Regions from separate parts of the Homo sapiens genome. Here region 2 is linked to region 1. Evidence: fine-mapped expression QTL. Tissue or cell type: adrenal gland. Region 1 holds a variant in brackets; the other region holds the start of a gene. All regions are shown on one strand. Distances are from middle to middle.

Region 1 (8,108 bases):
CTTGGGCAACATGGCAAAACCCCATCTCTACCAAAAAATAAAAAAATTAGCTAGGCATGGTGGTGCACACCTGAGGTCTCAGCTACTCCAGAGGCTGGGGTGGGAGGATCACTTAAGCCCAGGAGGCAGGGTTTGCAGTAAGCTGTGATCATGCCACTGCACTCCAGCCTGGGTGACAGAGTGATAATCTGTCTCAAAAAAAAAAAAAATTCAATAGAGAATTTATATTATACCTTATATATATATATTAATTTAGGTTATACCTTGATTACAGTTATGAAAAAAAGATGAAAGGAGAAAGAAAAAGATTGGAAGGAAGCATGTTCAAATGATAACCGGTGATTTCTTTTTCTTTCCATTTTTTCCAAAACACGTGACACATTTACTTTACAATGCAAAACATATATTTAAAATTTTTCCCTTTTCCTCTTGGACAGCTTATGTCCATCTCAAGGAGTTAGAAGGAGATTAGATAACCAGGAAGAGACCAATCTTTTCTATAAATTTCCTTCTTTGTAAAATGGGGGAAACAGTAGAAGAACAGTATAACTTTATAGGATTAGTCTGAGCATTAAATGGGACAATCTGGGTAAAATTTTTATTGCAAGTCTAGCACATGGTAAATGGTCTGTGTTAGTGATTAGCAGCATCACCATCACCTTCATCATTAGTGTTAGACCATCAGGACACTCCTGGACTTGGGAGTTCACCATTCCACTAGACATCACAGTTCCAATATTGTGTGCCTGTGGCATGTGAAGAGGAAGCAGAAATGCCACTTCCTAGTTGGCTGATCTGTGAGTTTCTAGCCATGAGCTGAGAGAGAAATCAGCCTTAGAGTTGGAAGTGGTGAACTTTCTGTAGCGATAGTAGAAGCTGACCTTGTCACTCCCAGGAATGCACCTGCCACTCAAATCAAACCTCCCTGTGAGCAAGGAGGGCAGGCATTCTTCCTTCAGTACAGCACCAGGAATCTCCTGGGGACAGGGGGAGGAGAGATGGGGCAGGTCAGAAAGCCTGCTGTCTCTGCATGGAAAGGGGGTGGAATTCTGGACCTAGCCAAGGTTAAGTTCCTAGCCAAGTTCATCCAGTAACATGACTTCTTTCTTTTGGTTGATAGCTCCACTATCTCTATCTAGCCCTCACCTTTCCTCTAAGACTTGTTTTATATACAGTTGTCTATTCGACATCTCTACTTGGATGGGGTTTAATATACCCCAAATAATACTCTATTCTTTTTTTATTAGCACGCCCTCAACCTACAAGTCTTCCTCTCCTTTCCATCTCACAGAATAGCACCACAAACTACCTACTTGCTTGAGGGAAAATTTAGGAGTCACCTTCAATTCCTCCTTTCTTCAACCATATCCAGTTCATCAAATGGCTCTGATATATATCCTGAATAATCTCCTCACCCCTGCTCCCCCACTCCCTACCTCCAGAGCCATAGTCCAGTCCAAGCCACTAACACCTTTCCAAACCATTCTTCACACAGCAATCAGAGTGCTGCACAAACAAGGTAAATCAGGTCATAGAAACTGGCATAAGAACTCCAATGGCTTCGTACTGCCCCTGGAATAAAACCCGAACTCCCTACTCTGAACGCCAAGGCCTGTGTGATCTCACTTCCATCCACCTCCCCAAGGCTTTGATTCAAACGCACTCACATCTATTTGTCAGACGCACGGAGCGCTTGCCCACAGCAGGGCCTCACTGCTCCTTCCATCTGGTATACCCTTCCGATGGCTAACCCTTTTTATACTCAACTATCAGGTCAAATGGCAGCTCCTCAGAAGGCCTTCCCTGGCCTTCCAAAGCCCCCATCACATCTGAGTAAGACACCCCTCTGTCCCTAATGGTGACTACCACATTGCTCTGTTGATTTTCCTTATACCCCTCATTACACTGTGAAATTATCTTGTTCACTCATTTACCAGGTTTTGGCTGTTTCCCCCAAATGGGGATAAATGCCACAAAAGAAGGGTGTTGTCAGTCATGTGCATCATTGCATGTCTTGCTCCTGGAACAGCATGTGGGACATACTGGTTGCCAAATGTGAAAGGGAGGCAGGAGCAGATGATTTGTGTACAGGTATGTGGGGCCCGGTTCGGGGATCCAGGCGGAGTTGAGTATGATGCCTGATAGGATTGTCATGCCCAGTTGTTGCAGTTTAGATGCCAAAACCTCCACCCGAGGTGAACTCTGAAACTTCCCCGATAGCCCTACTGCAGTGCGTGGGCTTCTTCCTTCCTGGGCTGTTTTCTCACCTTTGTTACAAACAGCTTGGCAATACTAGCATGATGGAATAAGGGTTGAGAGAATCATCTTTGAGCTGGATGACCTTTGTCCTGGCACAACTGGATGGTGTTTGATCTGATGTACCCAGCACTGTCAGCAGGGGGATCCACTTCCTATCCCATCTTCACAAGGTGAAGGATCAGGAATCGGTGAAGAAACCAAGTTTTCTTTCTCATGAACAGGAGAAACGTAGGCTTTTAATATCAAATGAATGTGTGAACCCGGATTATCTGAGACAGGTCTCAGTCAGTTTAGGAAGTTTATTTTGCCAAAGTTAAAGACACATGCCAGTGACACAGCCTCAGGAGGTCCTGACGACGTGTGTCCAAGGTGGTCCGAGCACAGCTTGGTTTTGCACACACACTTTAGGGAGACATGAGACATCAATCAATATATGTAAGATGAACATTGATTCAGTCCGGAAAGGCCGGACCATTGGAAGCAGAGGCGGGGCAACTCAAAGTGGGGAGGGGGCTTCCAGGCCATAGATAGATAAGGGACAAAAAGTTGCATTCTTTTGAGTTTTTTTGTTTGTTTGCTTTAATTGAGTCAGGGTCTCACTCTGTCACCCACACTGGGGTGCAGTGGCGCCATCTCAGCACTGCAACTTTTGCCTCCCGGGTTCAAGTGATTCTCCTGCCTCAGCCTCCCAAGTAGCTGGGACTAGAGGCGCCTGCTACCATGCCCAGCTAATTTTTGTATTTTCAGTAGAGACAGGGTTTCACCACCTTGGCCAGGCTGGTCTCGAACTCCTGACCTCAAGTCATCTGATGTACCCAGCACTGTCAGTGGGGGGATCCACTTCCTATCCCACCTAGGTCTCCCAAAGTGTTAGGATTACAGGTGTGAGCCATGGAGCTTGGCCTCTTTTGAGTTTTTGATTAGCCTCTCCAATCAGATATGCATTTACCTCAGTGAGCAGAGGGATGACTTTGAATAGAATGGGAGGCAGGTTTGCCCTAAGCAGTTTCCAGCTTGACTTCTCCCTTTGGCTTAGTGATTTTGGGGCTCTAAGATTTATTTTCCTTTCACAAATGGATCTGATGACTGGAAAATGGTTCCCCTGACTCAGAGCCTCTGCTCTGACCTAGAGCACTATCTCCTTTATCTAGAACACTCTTTCTCATATACCGCGTGACTTCCTATCCCATCTTTTATATGATTGCTCAAACATCCCATTCTTCATGAGGTCCTCCTCAGCTACTTTTACAAAAATTCTTTGCTCACTTTCACCCAGCCTGCTTAGTTTTTCTCCAGAGCACTATCACCATCTACCAAGCTATAGACTTTATTGAGTGATGTGTTTATTGTCCCCCACCCTCCAGTGTAAGCTCCATCAGTGAGGAGACTTTGTTTCTTTGGTTCCCTGTGTATCTCCAGCATTCAGACCAATGCTCACCACATCACATGTGCTCACTACATATCTGCTGGATGAAATAAAATCTAGGTATCAGAATCACAGGTTCATGGCGTGGGAGGATTTCTGGGCTAAGGCATCCTAATAAGAAATGGCATCAAGCCTGAGATGTCACTGAAAATGAAGTTTAAAACAAAAAAACCAAAGCACTGAAGCTAAGTACGTGTCCCAGGGCTACAAAATTATACATCTCTTAGATTTAATGGAGCCACAAACCAAGGTACTTAGAATGAAAAAGATTTCCTTCCTTCCTTCCTCCTTCCTTCCCTCCCCCTCCCCCTTCCTTCCTTCCTACTTTCTTTCTTCCCCTTCCTTCCTTCCTTCCTTCCTTCCTTCCTTCCTTCCTTCCTTCCTTCCTTCCTTCCTTCCTTCTTTCTTTCTTTCTTTCTTTCTTTCTTTCTTTCTTTCTTTCTTTCTTTCTTTCTTTCTTTCCTTTTTCTTTTTTTGATGGAGTCTCGCTCTGTCGCCCAGGCTGGAGTGCAGTGGCGCCATCTCGGTTCACTGCAAGCTCTGCCTCCAGGGTTCACGCCATTCTCCTGCCTCAGCCTCC[T/C]GAGTAGCTGGGACTACAGGCGCCCGCCATCACACCCGGCTAATTTTTTGTATTTTTAGTAGAGATGGGGTTTCACTGTGTTGGCCAGGATGGTCTCGATCTCCTGACCTTGTGATCTACCCGCCTCGGCCTCCCAAAGTGCTGGGATTACAGGCGTGAGCCACCACTCCTGGTCTCTCTCTCTCTCTCTCTCTCTTTCTTTCTTGTTTTTCTGAGACAGAGTCTTGCTCTTGTTACCCAGGCTGGAGTACAATGGCACAATCTCAGCGCATTGCAACCTCTGCCTCCCGGGTTCAAACAATTCTCCTGCCTCAGCCTGCTGAGTAGCTGGGATTACAGATGCGCACCACCACGCCTGGCTAATTTTTATATTTTTAGTAGAGACGGGGTTTCACCATTTTGGCCAGGCTGGTCTCGAACTCCTGACCTCGTGATCACCTGCCTTGGCCTCCCAAAGTGCTGGGATTATAGGCATGAGCCACCGCACCTGGCTAAGATTTGTATTTTAGAAAGAATTTTACTTATTTTGTAATTGATAGTTGGTATGGATTGAGTATTTGTGCTCCCTTGAAAGCCCTATGTTAAAGCCCTGATCCCCAGTGTGATGGTATTTGGAGGTGAGGTCTTTGGAGATAATTAGGGTTAGATTAGGTCAGGAGGGTGGGGCCTTCATGATGTCCTCATTAAAAGACTACAAGACAGGAGACCATGTGAGGATACAGCTAGATGTCTACAAGCCGGGAAGCAGGCCCTCACCAGATGTCAAATTTTTCAGTACCTTGATTTTGGGCTTTCCAGCCTCCAGAACTGTGAGAAATAAATTTCTGTTGTGTATAAGCCACCCAGTCTATGGTACTTTGTTATGGCAGCCCAATTGACTAAGATACTGGAGTGGTATTATAGAACAGTGTTATAACCTCCTTGAATTGCAGTGCTAGTTGGAGGACTAAACTCTAGGAGGCAGTGTTGCATATTCTGAAGAAATTGTTCTTTCTAACTCTCCTAAGAACACACAGTGTGACCTTAGACCAGCCACTTTCCAGCCTTGAGCCTTCGAGTCCTCATCCGTGATGGGAAGGAAATAGATTGGACATACTTTAAGTTTCTCAGTCAATGCTAACATCTGTAATCAATTCAGTGTGCAAGATGATGTTAATTTGCCTAGATCTTTTTTCATCTAATATTCACCTTTATGTTTATTTACCCAATGTCCTCACTGTTGGTGCAGAGTAAATTCTATCTGGAACCACTGCTTAGGATTGCTGTCTCAGTGGAAAATAATATCTTTCTTTCTCCAGATGTCATTGTTTTCCTCTTTTTAATTCCTTACCTTTCCTACAATCCAGAATTGTAAGAAAACAAATATTAGAATAATATTTGACCAAATATCTGGGCATTATGGCCCAGCCAAGTCGACACATAAAATTAGCCATCACATAGTACCGACTACTTATGCTTTGCTTTTCTAAAAGTGTTCTATATGCTTTATCTAAGTGTTCTATATGCTTGATATAAGAAATGCTGAGGCCTGGAGGGATTGAAATGGCTTGTCCAAGGTCACACAATAAGTGGCACCATGGGACAAAACCCCAGGTCCTGTTATTCTGCATCCCATGCTCTTTCTCCCTCATCCTGCTGCTTCTCCAGAGTTGGCAGTTACCAGGAGCATGTCATTCATGGTGATTTGTACCTGGCTGTGAAAGGCCCTCTGGATCAGAGGCACAATCACTGACAGTCTGATTTGGAATCCTTGGTCTTGTGACACAAAACACAATCAGCCCTAGCTCGGATGGACGGTTTTGAGAAGGTGTGAGTTTTTCCTTTTGCTTTGCTTTTTTTTCATTGTTGCAAGCAATTTGGCTTCCTGATGTCTATTTTTTCATTTCTCAGCCATGACAAAGGCCATGGTGATGAGTTGCTTCTGTGAGGTATTGACCATCCCTTGTACTCGGGATCAATTCACTGGGTCCAGCTCACAGAAAGACGTTACAGACAGATTACTGGCAATAAATGTGAACAAAGCCACAATGATGGAAATACATCTAAGTTTCTCCTGGGCTCTTTTGCTTTATTTACCTATTGACTTTTCAGCACCATGTCTTTCAGATGTGTCTAGGAAATGCCTCGTATATCTCCTTACTAGCATTAGTCACAACTATCAGCTGACAATGAATTTTGTCCTAGGTTGTTGGGAGTTGCCATGATGCTTAAGGACTCTATGGAATAAAAGAGGGAGAGTATCTTTGGAAGTTTAATTTGGTTGACCTGGGAGGACGTCTTAGGAGTAAAATAAGATCCACATTAGCACATGATAAAATGGCCCTATTGTTCTGTGGAGCGTTTTTTTCTTTTTTTCTTCTTTTTTTTTTTTTTTTTGAGATGGAGTCTCACTCTGTTGCCCAGGCTGGAGTGCACTGGCATGATCTCGGCTCACTGCAACCTCCACCTCCTGGGTTCAAGCAATTCTCCTGCCTCAGCCTCCTGAGTAGCTGGGACTACAAGCACAAGCCACTATGCCTGGCTAATTTTTGTATTTTCAGTAGAGATGGGGGTTTCACCATGCTGGCCAGGCTGGTCTTGGACTCCTGACCTCAGGTGATCCTCCTGCCTTGGCCTCCCAAAGTGCTGGGATTACAGGTGTGAGCCACTGTGCCTGGCCTGGAGCAGTTTTTTCCTTGGGAAGCCAAATGGTAGTAGAGTTAGTTTCAACTAAACCCTGCCTTTGGTTCAGTGGGAGCCAGTAACATTGAAACATGTGATGTCTGGGCCTTGGCAACCATCAAGACAAAATTCAATTTGCCCTAGAATTTTCACACTCAGGGGAAACACACATGCGCACATACACACACATCAAAAGAAAGTTTGCCAAAGGTTCGGGGTAGCAGGAGGGACAAGGGGAAAAGCTTTCATTTAAGAACAGTCATGAATGGTTAGCATATGAAAGGTATCACACCAGGTCCTGGGCCTGCAGCCTCTGTAGCCTCACAGAGCTCATGGTCTCCAAAAGGCAAATTCAACAAATATTTATTAAGGTCCTACTGTGTGTTAGACACGGAATGAAATGTCCCATCCTATTTGGTGCCATCACAGAACTTCAGTCCAATAGGGCATAGGTGCTGTGATAGGGGAGACAGAGGATATGGAATTCTGTAGCCTGCCCTGGCCTGGAAAGCATGGGAAAGCTTTCTAGATAAAGTGACATCAGAGCCGCCCTCTTAAGGATGTGTAGAAGTCAACCAAATGGAGGCCATTTTTGGGCATGGTGGTTTCATTCAGGAGAAAAACAAACGTTTTGGTTGGAAGAGATACGAGGCCATTGGTAGAACTGAAATACAGGCAGATAGGCTGGAAAAGGCGAGTACAAAGCGAGGCTGGGGAATGGCTGGGGCAGGAGGAGGGGAGTGGTGAGAGGTGAGGCTGAGGAGGGGACCAGGGGCCAGAGCTGGGGTGCCTTGTATGCCATATTGAGGAATTTGGGCTTCGCTTTTAGTCTTTTGAAAGATTTTAAGATTTTTAAAAATTATGAATGAAACAATGAGGCCTGAGGCTTTGAAAGTTCACTCTGTCTGCAATTTGCTGTGATATGTCCTTTAATATAGATTGCCCAATTGCCCAGAGAGTACTTCTAGAGCATACTCGAGGATGCAGAAGCAAGGTAAAGGGATGTGGGGACAGGCGGGGCTGTGTCTGTTGCCATCAGCAGCTCTGGGCTCCCTCTTGGGAACTCTGTGGCACTCCTGGTACCTTCTCTGATGTCTCTGTCATCCATGATAGTCGTATGCTCCTGGCCTTCAGGGTGGAGGCTGTCACCGCCCTCTCTGTGATTTTGATCACAGTTTACGT
Region 2 (8,108 bases), 67 kb after region 1:
TAGCACATTCTTGATTATCATGTGTATAATATCCCTTCAAGGGATATTATAACTGTTCATTTTAAAGCCCAGAATTGTTTGGAGTCTAAAACAAATTTAACAATGAGAAATGAAAACTTTCATTATTAAATTTAGTCACTCTCTCAAAATTTATATTATAGATCTAACCCAACCTGCCCAAACCCCATTTTCTGGTATTGTTAAACATAAGTGCATTTAATGAGACTATTATTGATATTTACATTATAGGGAAGAGATTCAGAGTCTGGAGAAATGTTTTAAGGCAAACTAATAATAATGACCAAAATACAGGAAGGAAAGCCAAACAGATGAATTTGAATAAATCGACGAGTGTAGCTGTTCCAAAGGAGGAAGGAACTCAAGGAAAGATCCATTATAACAAGCATCAAAGGCTCATTTGGGTCAGTAGAACTTTGATAAAGGAAGCAAAGGGATAATGAGATAACAGTAAGCAACCAATTAGATTGCAGATAGAGAGCTGTTGGGAGCTGGTCCTGACAAAGAAGGTGTGTGGGGTACAGGGTGAGCTTGGAGTTCCTGCCCCAGCTTTGGAAGAGGTGTTAGAATTACTGAAGTCAGGGAAAGCTGACAGGAGAGGTACCAGATTGTTGCAGAGGTCTATCAGGGTTATGCTGATGACAATTACAGCCAGAATGGTTTCTGATGTTCAAATAGACATGGTCAAAGAGGATTTAAATGTGGAAAGCATGGACCTTTTTTAAGGTCAGACAAAGCCAGATTTTAATTCCAAGTCTGACACTTATGAATTTGGACTTTGAGCATATTTTTGAACTCTCTGAGTCTCAGTTTTCTCATCTGTAAGTGGGGATAAAAATATCTATATATAAGAGGCATTGTAAAGATTAAATAATATATGTATACATATATATAACCACTTAACAAATTGCCTCATACTTAGTTAATAATAAAATGGTTCATATTAATAGTTGGCCAAAGAAAAAATATTTGGCTAATAGATGTAGAAATTTTAATAGCTAGAAAGTATTTCAGAAATTATTTTGTCAAATTCCTCCAAAAATAGAAATAAATGTAATCAAATTAATGAATCTGGTTCCTCCTTATAATTTTTGTTAGGAATAATTATGTACCTATAATAGAGCTAATAAAGACTTAGAGAATGAAACTACATCTATATTTTTCTATAGATGTGTTTGATTTTCTTGACAAACTCATCCTATAGTTCTTGGTATACCTTTGATTAAGATAGAAAGATCTATTTTAATAAGGTATTACAATTGAACTTTAAAAATTTAAGGATGACTTGAACTGATAATTTTTGTTATAAATGTAAGCCCTCTGCTTTAGAAGAAATATATGCATAAAATGTTGTGGGGTATAAGTATGATATTGGAACAAAAGTTGAGGCCCCAAGGAACATTTCTAGCTACATTGCAACTGTACTAAGGGCTATTCTGTTCTATTCTTAGCAGAAGTAGCAGCAATAAATTCACATTAGTAAAAATGAACTAATGAGATAATTATCACGAAACACCATTGTATCTTTTACCATTTCATATTCTGAAGGCTTAGGTGATACCTACCTAAATTGCCAAAATAATATCATATTATATGACATGTCTGAAAAATTATTAGAGGTTGTTAATAGGACTTTCCCTCTAAAAATATTTTGTCAAGATATATACCAATGCATACACTTGCTTGGAAGGGTTGTTTTGACATGTGGAAAAATAGCTGTACCTATTTTACTTTTAATAATTATCAGTCAACTACATTAATATCCCTCTTTTCCAAAGGAGATCCTGTTGCTGCAAGGAAGAATGTGAGAGCAATGAAACACAAATTTGTTTATCTGTATGCAGAAGAAAAATAACAAACTATGAACATAGAAAAAATGGAAATACAGCCTCAAAAACCTTTAGCTTTCCTGTTTTAAATTTTAGCTTCCTCCAGAGAAGAAATTTATGCATTCAATTTTAATAAAAAAAGCTTTAAAATCTCATAAGTCTTCCCTTTTATCATACTGATGAAATTTTATTAAGACTATAACTTTTCATCATAAAAATATTTCTTGGACTTGATATTGCTCAAATTTCCTGTCAATCTGACAGGCATATGTTGTAATGTTATAAAGAATAAGCACCTCCTTTTGTGAACATAATATACCCTCAACTCAGAAAACGGAAAGAAAATAAATTATTCTACAGGCCTTTGCTTTAGTTGAGGTACTGTTAAGTGTGGCAGGCATCATCCTGGATAAGATATTTTCATTCCAGGCCAAAAGAAGGAAAGCTTTTCCCTGACATACACCAATCATGAACATGTTGATTATATAGGTAGTTGCTACAAGCTGTCAAATCATCAACTATGAATGACAAGTTGACAGAAGCACAAATAATTATTGTCTGTGGACTTTGCCCATTCAAAAGTCTTTACACAGTAAAGATCTAAGGATAATCCTTCCATTTTGTGCCTATTGCAACAGTCTCGAGGCACAACTGGGGCTGGAATGAAGGCCACCTGAATCTTAACAGTGAGGGTCTATTTTACAACCTAACAATGGTTAGTGGTGGATTAAAATCTGTCCTGAGGGGAAGAAGACAAATGAGAGGCTCACGCAAAAAAGGAGTTCCATAATGCGAAGTCAGTGGCAATCAAAAGGTTCAGATTTTTGAGACTGTATCTTACACAATATCTGATGGCCATTTAAGGAGACATGTAAAGAAAAGTACCTGTATACCAAACTTATTGCTGTATAAAGAACAGCAAAAACAATAAATTCCCTGTACAGTAGTTTGTAGATGCTGCCTCTCCACTTGAGGAGTAACCTATGAAATCCAAAAAAAGTTGCATTTGCTACTTTACTGGAGTAAGTGACAGTCATCTTGGATAGTTTTTTCTAGAAGAGCAAGAAGACAAAACACAAGTAAAAAGCAATGTTTAAAATAGGGCATAAATCTGTATGTCTGTATATCAAGGAAATTCAAGCCAGCAACTAGTCAGCCATATCTCTGTTTTGTCTTTCTTAGTTTCTATAATTCGGAACTTTCAGATAACCATTATCTCAGTTTAGCAGAAAGCAGGAGGAAAGCAGTCTCTGGGAAGAGTAATATTAGACATCTTAAACTTGCCTTAACTGTTAAATATTATTTTTAGATTATATAGCCATTGGCCAATATATATTTGAATGAACAAATGAGACAAACAAGGCCCTCGTGAGAATTTAATTGATGGGGCACTTTTGGTGGGTTTGATTGCATGTAGATGTCTCTCTAGTGGAGGTCCAAATGCATCGTTAGCACTCATTGCATTTCAAAAGTCAGCCAAAAAGTTGGGTCATAGTGATAAATAAGAATGGTGCAGTTTCCCCATGACAAGTTGTACATAAATGCTTAGGGATGGTTCACATTCTCTTTGGAGTTGAACAAAATGAGGTCATTATTTACAACTCTTTCTACTTGAGTCCATTTCATGAATGTGGTTAGGATGAGCACTGGGCCCAAAAGCCTTGTTTTTGGTGAGTTCTTTGGAATTCCACCACTTTTCACCAAGACATTAAATATTCAGGTTTTGAAACAGACAGCGCAAAGCTAATCTTTGAAAATCTTGCTCAATTTCTGGCTAAGATAGAACATATGCAAATAAAATGAGATTTATTTAAAATCTTACTTTTCTCAAAAGGATCTATGAGGAGAGTCTTATAGAGCTACTTAGACTGAAATCATGAAGCTTTTAGATAGAATTGTACTAGACACAAAAAATAAATTCTGTAGCAGATTTCTTTTGTAAAGTAGCCTACACCACACATTTTATCATAAACAAGAAAATTTTCTATCTTTACTCATTGCTGGAAAAACAATTCAACTCTGATTTGCCTATTTTCCCTAAGGAAATGAAACTCTGGAGCTACGTTTACAGCATTTTCTAAAATCACAAACTTAGCTTTCAACATTACTGATTTTAATAAAGAAGGTAGGGCCTTTTGGCACAAGTAAGTGGCATTACAAAAGGATGGGACTCATGCCACAAAACCGGTTTTATTTTTCCATCTTTACCTTGTCTATTTGCCTAGTGCGAATACAGCCAAAATTGGGAGAGGAGCATAATAAATTAAACCCATTTCATAATTTGTTCTCATGGACTCCCGGTAGTTTTAAATAACAGTCCTTAATTAACTTTCCTTTCTTTCATTTAGTAGTTCACTCTTCTTTTCAAGCTCTGCCAGGAAAATGAAAATCACAGCAAGTAGAGGTCAGAATTAAAATGCATAGGTTTACTCTGGGCACTAACCTATTTATTTGGTTTGTAGTCTCCGACAGGAAAGAGAATCTTCAAATTTCGGGCTCCCCCGAAGAGGTGCCTTCAGGTCGGTGCTGCACGCCCGGTGTCACCCTTCGCTCGTGCACAGTCAGATTTTCTTTCTGTTCTCTGGCCACTGAGAGGACCCAGAGTGTGACAAGAACAGGGGTTAAATGTTTTTCCACTTGTAGAGGCCTGTTTATGCCAGTTTAGCCACTGATGACAGTTATAGCTGGGAACAAACAGAAGCAACAGCTGCTGATGCTGCTTTTTTCTAAGCTATAATTATAACTCCACCTGCCACCCCAAGTACCCCTTTGAATGAGAAGTTGGCAGTGACATGAAGGATGTTGGGCCGTTTGTCTGTTAGATTCATTTGACTCCACCCTGGGATCAAGGAAGAAAGGTTGATTTGGCCCTAAAGAGTTCAAAAAAGAGGCCCCACCAGCCAAAAAAAAAAAAAAAAAGTCTTTTTGTGCTTGAAATGAAGATTAAATTCTTAAAACTGGGCTGGAACGCGGTGGCCCACACCTGTAATCCTAGCACTTTGGGAGGCTGAGGCAGGCAGATCACCTGAGGTCAGGAGTTCGAGACCAGCCTGGCCAACATGGTGAAACGCTGTCTCTACTAAAAATACAAAAATTAGCTGGGTCTGGCGGTGGGCTCCTGCAATCCCACCTACTTGGGAGGTTAAGGCTGGAGAATCACTGGAACCCAGGAGGCGGAGGTTGCAGTGAGCTGAGATCACACCACTGCACTCCAGCCTGGGCGACAGAGCGAGACTCTGCCTCAAAAAACAGATGAAAAAATTCTTATGAAGCCATAAACTGGGGCAGACAAGAATATAAACAGGATTTTTGCCACTTGAGAGGTGTTGAAAATGTTCTTCAATTAAAAGCAACGATTATGTGTTAGTGTGTGTGTGGTGTGTGTTTGTGTGTTAGAAGAACACATAGAGAATCATGATATATTGATGGCTTAGTGTAGTGGGAAATAATAACACATGGATTCATCACATTTTTTTTCTTTTAAGATGGAGTCTCGCTCTGTCGCCCAGGCTGGAGTGCAGTGGCACGATCTTGGCTCACTGCAACCTCACCTCCCGGGTTCAAGCGATTTTCCTCCCTCAGCCTCCCAAGTAGCTGGGATTACAGGTGCACACCATCACACCGGCTAATTTTTTATATTTTTGGTAGAGATGAGGCTTCACCATGTTGGCCAGGCTGATCTCGAGCTCCTTACCTCAAGTGATCTGCCTGCCTCGGCCTTCCAAAATGCTGGGATTACAGGCGTGAGGCAACGCACCCGGCCAGATTCATCACATTTGTTATCCTTCCATGGTCAGCTAGGAAATTTTTTCTTTTTTTTTTTGAGATGGAGCTTTGCTCTTCTTGCCCAGGCTGGAGTGCAATGGTGCCGATCACGGTGCACTGCAACCTCCGCCTCCCGGGTTCAAGCGATTCTCCTGCCTCAGCCTCCTGAGTAGCTGGGATTACAGGCATGCGCCACCATGCCCAGCTAATTTTGTATTTTTAGTAGAGACAGGGTTTCTCCATGTTGGTCAGTCTGGTCTTGAACCCCCGACCTCAGGTGATATGCCTGCCTCGGCCTCTCAAAGTGCTGGGATTACAGGTGTGAGCCCACCACACCCGGCGCATAGTTTCTTTCTTTTCTTTTCCTTCCTTCCTTCCTTCCTTCCTTCCTTCCTTCCTTCCTTCCTTCCTTCCTTCCTTCCTTCGTTCCTTCCTTCGTTCCTTCCTTCCTTCCTTCCTTCCCTCCCTCCCTCCCTCCCTCTCTCTCTCTCTCTTCTTTCTTTCTTTCTTTTTTTGAGACACAGTCTCACTCTGTCGCTTAGGCTGGAGTGCAATGGCACAATCTTGGCTCACTGCAACCTCTGCCTCCTGGGTTCATGCAATTCTCCTGCCTTAGCCTCCCGAGTAGCTGGGACTACAGGCGTGTCCCACCACACCTGGCTAATTTTTGTATTTTTGGTAGAGAGGGAGTTTCACCATATTGGTCAGGCTGGTCTTGAACTCCTGACCTGGTGATTCGCCCTCCTCAGCCTCCCAAAGTGCTGGAATTATAGGCGTGAGCCATCGCGCCCAGCCCCATATTTTCTTTCTTAAAAGAGAGAATTCACCAGCGTTCTTTAAGTAATAAAATAAATAATTTCAGGGCCAATTCCTGGGACTTTTCCAACCTTCTAAAGTAACTTGTGCACCCTTGCACCTTAACTTAAAGAAAATGTATTTTTGTGGAGAAAGATATAGAAAAAAATGCTTATTCTAAAATTAAGATTACATATAATTAAATTTTTCTAAAACAGTAAGTTTTATATGCATTTCGCTGGATTCTTTATCAAATTCTAGGTACCTTAGATTAGAGCAAAGCCAGGGCTGTAGGTATCTTTTTAATTTCTTGCCCCCATCCCTGTTCATAATTCCAGTATGGAGCCCTGTGAATAATGAATATTTAGTATGTATTTGCTGTTTGATTATTCCTTACCTTCACTATTATAATTCTGTTGGTTATTTGAGGGAATTTGTGAACATTTAAAAAGCATATATACAATGTTGCACATCTTATGTTGTGTTGCCATGAAAAGTGGTCTGATAGATCTGATGTTATGTTTATAAAGGTTTGCAAGACGAATCTCAGCAAATCTAAACCCAAATGCTTATGAAATAGGAACATCGGAGGTATTTTGTAAAATTCTCACTCTTGCATCTCCTATTGGTTGTGTGGTGGCCCTGACAGCTGGCATATTCCCAGCAGCCATGACTGCATAGCTAGGGGATCTGCCTCTGTGGGGCACTGAACGCACTGTTGGTTGGTTTCATTTCTAAACAGGGATAATTATGTTCCTCTCTCCCATTGGGTTGTTTTGAGGAATGACTAATTAATGGTTGGAGACAGCATTCTAAATGCAAATTAGTCAATAATGATCAGATTGAATGAACAAACTCCCATTGTTGAGCTCTGAATCTGGTGGTGATTTCTAACAGGTACTGAAAGAGGCCTTGTCGAAATAGCCCTGCTTAGAGGAGACAAGCCACTAAAGCTTATTTTAAAATATCCAACAAACACCGGATTGCAAAGTTGAAGGCTCATATCACTTTTTAAATCGAACTTTAAAGTTTCTTTAGAAATTTTTTTCCAGATTCTAAAAGTAAAATATGATTATTAAAAAATAAAAAGGAAAACAACATATAAAGAAGACAGTGGCACTCTGTCCTGCCACACTAGAGGGGTGGTATCATTTGGCATAAAGTTAATCTTGCTAGACTTTTGTGGAAAATATTTTAACCCTATAATTAATAGCAAACGATATGATAGACCCTTAGGCAATTTCAGGGCTCTATGAAATAACTATACCAGCCATATTTTCCCTTGACAGTAAACATCAAGTTATGTGATTTTGACCACTCTGATTTTCAACAGTCCAGAGTAGCACATTTGTCTTTGATTCCAGTAAACCTCCAATGACAGGGCAATTCATAGAAAAGAACAAGGAATCATTTCCACTTGGAATCCTGATATTCACCTATAGATGTCAAAATAAATCTCTTTGTTCCTTAAGGAAACAGGAAATAGTAACAACAACAAGTTTACGTAGCCAATACCACCTTCTACTTGAGAAGCAGCTATTTAGAAAGCCCCACATTCATTTTAAACTGATTTGACATGTCTCCACTGACATGAGAAGTCTCTTGTCAAATTTCTTCTGAGTGATTAGTTGAACATAAATTGTGTGTAGATAACACATGTATTCAAATATTAACCAAAGACCAGACGTTGTATTTTGGAGG

Evidence for each region. PIP is the estimated chance that this variant, and not a neighbour inherited with it, causes the effect.
Region 2: it holds the start of BEST3, and the variant in region 1 is fine-mapped to the expression of BEST3 in adrenal gland (GTEx, PIP 0.99).

What each region holds. Positions count from the first base shown.
Region 1 is chr12:69,628,020-69,636,127 of GRCh38, forward strand. The region is part of intron 2 of LOC105369823 (a long non-coding RNA gene); the gene reads left to right. Among named protein-coding and RNA genes, the nearest start is that of LRRC10, 21 kb to the left of the region's middle. The variant T/C (reference allele first, on the strand shown) is at 4,266.
Region 2 is chr12:69,694,915-69,703,022 of GRCh38, forward strand. BEST3 (bestrophin 3) reads right to left here and starts at 4,389. Exons shown (of 10, transcript NM_032735.3): 1 at 4,291-4,389; 2 at 2,733-2,899. The coding sequence starts at 2,884.